2 linked regions of the Homo sapiens genome follow. The protein of the gene in region 2 purifies or fractionates together with the protein of the main gene of each other region. This does not show direct contact. Each region holds a gene or a part of one and is shown on either strand. Other genes may lie near its edges.

What was found.
Region 1: the proteins of CMTR2 (region 2) and PARVA fractionate together in Homo sapiens (co-fractionation; one large-scale study listed by BioGRID). This does not show direct contact.

What each region holds. Positions count from the first base shown.
Region 1 is NC_000011.10:12,380,571-12,384,070, forward strand, and holds part of PARVA (alpha-parvin), read left to right. Parts: intron 1-3,500. UniProt on the Homo sapiens protein: Plays a role in sarcomere organization and in smooth muscle cell contraction. Required for normal development of the embryonic cardiovascular system, and for normal septation of the heart outflow tract.
Region 2 is NC_000016.10:71,283,648-71,286,402, forward strand, and holds part of CMTR2 (cap-specific mRNA (nucleoside-2'-O-)-methyltransferase 2), read right to left. Parts: intron 2,293-2,755; 5' UTR 2,274-2,292; coding exon 1-2,273.

The DNA.
Region 1 (3,500 bases), on a different chromosome or scaffold from region 2:
TAGGGGCAGCGTCCATAGGGCACAGAGCAGTGCAGAGAATAGATCACAGTGGGGACGGTGGAAATGGAGAATACCTAGCAGATCAACCTGTTACCAGACCCGCTCGAAGTGAGCTCTCCAGAAGTCACCATAGTACAGTTGTAGTGCAAGCCAGCCACCCCAGATTAGGACTGTCATCTCCCTTATTCTAGCACAGACACAATGTTCTTTTAATGCAGCTAAGGTTGCCTCTAACTATTCTGCCAGCCACGTCGCACTGTGATCTCTCATTGAGCTTGCTATCAGCTTACTCAAAGACATTTTTATATTTGTTGCTCCTAAATCACAGCCTTCCCTATCTTGGATTTACTCAGTTGGGTTTTTGAAACCAAGTGTAAGATCTTATTTTCATCCCTGTTATATTTCACTGTAAAGTCCTGATTCCTTCATTCAGTCTGTCAACTAATCCAGGGGCTGTAAATGGATGAATGGAAGAACACAGAACGTCTTCTGAAGGGCCAGCCACCACCCAGCTCCAGCTGCTTGCTGCGGCATATGGTATTTCTGCAAGCCCAGGCAAAGAAGGCAGTGGGTTGGTTTGAAATGACTGTCCTTAGTGAGTATGTGCTGGATCTCAATGATCAGTGCTGAAGTGATGGTTAGTAGGTGTGGGGCCCCATTAACCATCACTTCAGTAATAATAAGGCCGGATCTTGCTCTGCATCCTGGATAAGCTCACAGCTTTGTGCTCTGTAGAATCTGCCTTCTTCAACTTTCTCTTTGGTGTTCTTGAACCTCTCATTCTTCATTCCTCAAGATCACTGCCATCAGTCTGTCCACAGATTATCTCAGTGCTTTGGTGTAGCATTCTCCGAGGCCCAAGGACTCCCATTCATTCATTTGGTACCTGCTATGTCCCACTGTAGGACACAACAAATGGAAAGATATAATACTTGTTAGAATATAGTTGACCCTTGAACTATGTGGGGGTTATGGACATTGACCCCCTGTACAGTCAAAAATCTGTGTATAGTTTTTAACTCCCCACAAACTTAACTGCTAATAGCCTACCGTTGACCAGAAGCCTTACTGATAATGGTCAATCAACACATATTTTGTATTGTATACTGTATACTTAACAATAAACAAACTGGAGAAAAGAAAATGTTATAAAGAAAATCATAAGGAAGAGAAAATACGTTTGCAAAACTGTGCTGCATTACTGATACTGTAAGTTTACATTGTCTGACTGAAATGGTAGGTAACCACAGCTGCACACCTCAACCTATGGTACACATCAAGCAATTCAACTTTTCTTATAATGTCATGACTTTTCTCTGATACTTGGGAGTACTTCCAGCATCTCTAGTGGCACTTTGTTAGAGTCCCATGGTGTTAGTCAAGGTTTATGGTATTTCACTAAGCATGAAAAATATGCGAGAACCTCAAGAGATCACTTTTAACTGCGGTACACAATTTACTGGAGAGATGAACTGTTCACGTGGAGATGATTAGCGTCACAAGGTGTTTTAAGCAGATACTTGCAGCGCTTGAGCTCACCACAATAGCAACAGGAGGTAGCTGTGAAATTATTACAGTGGTACAGTATGTACTACAGTTCATTTCGTGCAGTGAGGATTTAATCTTTACGTTTACATTTCTCTCATCTGCAGATGGCATCACGCACAGTTCTTGTGTGTATGTGTACATTTTGACATTTCGATAAGTTCTAACTGTTTGTAATAGATTTGTTTATATTTTATGGTAGTAAATGAGAAGGCAGACAAGTATTGATGTATATTTTATGCATTTGTGACATGAGTAACTTTTTCTTTTTTTTTTTTTTTAATATTTCTAGGCTACATGGTTCATCTCAAGGTTTTTCTAATTGTCACAGATCTCCAAAAATATTTTCCCATATAGTTATTGAAAAAATTTGCATATAAGTGGACCCTCGCAGTTCAAACCTGTGTTGTTCAAGGATCAACTCTATTTAGGTTAATAATTTCATGTAAAAAATGTCCTCCTAAGGAAAACTACATCATAGAATGACTATGAGTCTCATAAGAATGCACTCAACTAGTCATCACTCCTGTGTTTTCATAAGAAAAAACAGTGTTAGAGTCCAAGAGAGAACAAGGGTTAAAAGCATGGTCTTTAGGATTAGACACATTTCAATTGGATTTCTGGTTCAACCCCTTATTCATTCTATGACTTAAGACAAGTTACTTAACCCCTGTAAGCCTCTGTGTCTTCATCTATAAAATGAGAATAAGAATTCCTTCTTTACATGGAAGTTGTGAGGTTTAAATGAGATCGAGAATGTAAAATGCATTGCATGGCACAAGTAATGGTAGCTATTAAAATTGACAACTCAATTTTCATTGGTCTTTGAAATTTGAAATAGTCTTTTTATTATGGACTGCACTGGCTTTTTCAGGTTCTGTAAATAGCCTAGTAGCCCATGACTATATGCCTGTGGGACACTATTTTGTCCCTTTAGGAGTTAAGGGATCTTTCTTTGCAAGTGAGATCCTCCCTTTTCCCAAGATGACACATTTCAGCACTTTATCTGGGCCCCTTCTTATGAGTTGTAGCTTAAGTGGCTTTTGTTTTTCTCTGTTGATCTTTTTCTTCTTCTTTTGGGTTTTCAATTCCATTTCTGTTGGACATGGCCCTCCTGTGTGGATTCTTTCACTGCCCTTTCAGAGTCTACTTGCCAGAGGGCCACTTTTCAACTTTCTTTCTCTGAAACTGTCCTCAAGACGTGCTCTTTCAAGCAACACTAACTTGAATTGTACCTCTCTGCTGAAGGCACCCGAATTAGGCCAGCAGCACTGGTCATTCCTGTCGTTTACCCATTCATTTAAGTTTTTATCCCCCAGAGTTTTACATTTTGATCAGGACCTGAGGTATCCAATGAAGGCTTTAATTTCATAATTCTTCTAATAATACTAGTTCTTACCACTTGATTCTCATTGGCTGCCCAGTGTTGCTGGAGAAAAATCCACAAACCTTGCAACAAATTTATGGTTTCTAGAGTGAGTAGAACCCTTAGCACTGCAGAGCTACCCTTTTCTTCTAATCAGCCGGTGCATTCTCATTTTTCCAAAGTACATCTTTTTCTGTAGAGACACAGTCTTGCTATGTTGCCCTGGTCGGTCTCAAACTCCTGGGCATATCTAACTTTTTCTTAATTTTTTTTGATATTTCTAGATCACAAAATTCATCTGCAATTTTTTCAAATTGTTGCAATTCTCAAAAAAGTTTCTAATACATTTATTTTAAAAATTTGCATATAAGTGGACTCTTGAAATTCAAACCTGCATTGTTCAAGGGGCACGCCTTGAACAATGGCACCCATGTTGTTGTCCATAGCCCCTAAAACCCTTCCCTGGATTTTCAGATAGAAAATTGAGACCAGCTATGAGCTCCTTCAAGTTCCCTTTCTACCATATCTGGCCAGTCCCACCCATATGTGCAACTGTCTTTGTGCTCCCCACCTGCCCTAGTCCCTTCCA
Region 2 (2,755 bases):
TCTCTTTGAATAATGAAATGCAAATGCCTTTTAGCAATGGCAGCATTCAAATCCCACAAAAAATCAAGCAGGGCCCCCTTAAGGAGTACCTCCATTGGCACAAACTGTAAAACCTGCTGGGGTGAGTCAGAGTTGAGCAAAGTGCTCAACAATTCATTCACACTCTGCAAATATCGGAAAACTGGATTTGGAAGGTCCTGATAACCAACACATAGCAGGACTGCGCAGGTCCTCAGGGGATCAGAGGATGTGGGACAAACAAAAGTGATGAATCTAAAACAACTGTGGAGTACAAAGATCAAACCAGCCATAAATCTTGTGAAGCAAGAAAGTACAGGCAAAATCATAACATCTCCTGTATGAAGCTCCCGCAATGAATGTAGAAGGCAGTCCAAAAATAAACGCTGGTAAGTTGGATCTCCATCATGAAGCAATGAACAGCTAAAAGTTGTGAGTTCAGCTGATTCTAGGAGTCGAACTTCCAACGGTATATGCATTTTGATATTACGGAGAGTCGAAAAGCCCACCAGCAGGCACTTTATTTGATTGCTGGGTACTACAACCTGCTCATCCTGAAGGCACTCAGTAAGGCTACACAACTCGGAAAATATCAGTTCTTCAGAAAAAACATGACAAGAACAAGAATACTGCTGTTTTGGCCTAAACTTGGAATCCAAATTAAAAGCTCCTCCTAATGACTTTTCAATTGCTTCATTAAGAGTTTTTAAAATTTCACCATTGCAAAAAGGAGAACATTTTACCTTTGGCAGTTTCTTTCCCTCCAAAATATGCCATAAGTGACACTCAAGATTGGAAGCTGTTCCTTCTAAAATAGAACTCTGCCCAGGATGATATACACCATGTTCTTCAGCCCAACTATTAAAGTATCCTTTGGCTACTTTATCTTTCCATGAAAGGGCTTCTAGCATCTTCCTTTCATTATAAGTTTTAAAATATTTGTTCCTCTGCCCAAACCATTTTGTATTTGTACTACAACCAATACTAGATTTTTTTACTAGCCAATTATTTCTGGAAAGATGTTTCAGTTGAAATTTTTGCATAAAATATTGTATAGCACAATCCCTTAAATTATTCAGCTTTTCTTGTTCCGCCTTTCCCATGCACTCAAATAGACGAATGTTTTCAGAAATAGTCTCTAGCTGATATTTATGAAAGAACACACAACATTCTTCATGTCTCTTAAGAAAAGAATCAGGAATCACATGATGGGGAAAAAGGGCTTTCCTTTTCATTTCAGTCCCAAAATTCAAGGTCATCTTAGATAACAGAGGATGGATGGCCTCTCTCCCCTTATAGTGGAGGCAAACCACATAGACTTCGGAGTTTCCTGCCTTGCTAGTAGCAGGTTTGAAAACATGGACTTGGTCAAAACAACAGTTTAGCAGGTACATCAAGTTTATGGAACAATGTTCAAACATAGTAAACATCTTTAGAACAAAAGAGCCACCGTTTCCAAGAGTGGTCAGAGCAGTGACAACTTCACAGTAATGCAAAGAAGAAACTAAAGCTTCTTGTTCACCTGGGTTTCCTTGGCAATCAAAACTCCCATCTGCAGTGACCAAGTGAACAGTAGCCATGCTGCTTATGAAATTCTGAAGTCCAGTCAAGAATTTCAGGGTCATGATATCACCAGTGTTATCTGGACCAAAGTACCACCAGTGCAAGGTATTTGCAATAAGCCGGTCATCCATAATCATCATGAGGTCGTCATTTGCTTCATGGTATGGATTCAGAGTATTCGCTACCCAACTCCAATGACAAGGAAACCGATGGGATTTTAAGTAGTGGTTGAGACTAGCTATAAAAGCTCCTGGAGCTTCACAAAGGTGTAGAGAATTCAGTTTTCCATTCTGAAAAGCTTCCTGTGGAATAAGTGGAAAGCTGCACAAAATCTCATGGAACTTACACCATGCTTGAGTACAAAGTTCAGCATTCACAGATTTTCTAACATGAGAAATGATTTTCCCCGCTTTATTAGTGAAAGCAGTGTGCTCATGCCACTCATCCAGTTTCTTATCACTCAGTAGGTTTTTTACTTCATTTAGGGAGTTCTTCAAATCAAGAAATGCATTAAGTTCAGTGTGGTCACAGGTGAAAATCTCACTGGGATCTGGTAACTGCCACTCATTATTAAGTGGCTTGCCATAAGAAAAGTTCTTGGCAAAGAGTTCAAAAATGTCAGCAAGAATATCTGGGCTGAATGACGCGGGACTTGCTAGCTGCTGAACTGGTGTCTTTCTGCACTTACTCATTTTCAAATCAAATTAAAATCTAGGAAGAGAAAACACATAATTAAATGAATCAAATTTATTAGTGAGCGAAATCTCATGAGCAGCAAATACGATCACACTCATGACAAACTCCATAAAATGGGAAGGCTAAAGTCAGCATACTCTGTTATTTAACCAAGTAATCTGGAATAATGAAAAAGGCTTTGATATCCAAGACCTGGGTTCAAATTCCAGCTCTGCTAATTATGGCTTAATAAGCACCCTTGGGCAAATTCCATCTCTTGGATTTGGTTTCTTCTCATTAAAAAAAAAAGCCTATCATTTTTTAAGAAGAAGATAAAACATACTAGCATATAAAAAACATATAACAAAGCATAATCATCAGTGAATGACAGCTCTGATTATCATAGTAACCCATCTAACTCTTCCCCAAAGTTCTTCCCTACCAATGACTGTGACAACACCTACATGACCTCAAACAAATCCATCCTTAGAGATTCATC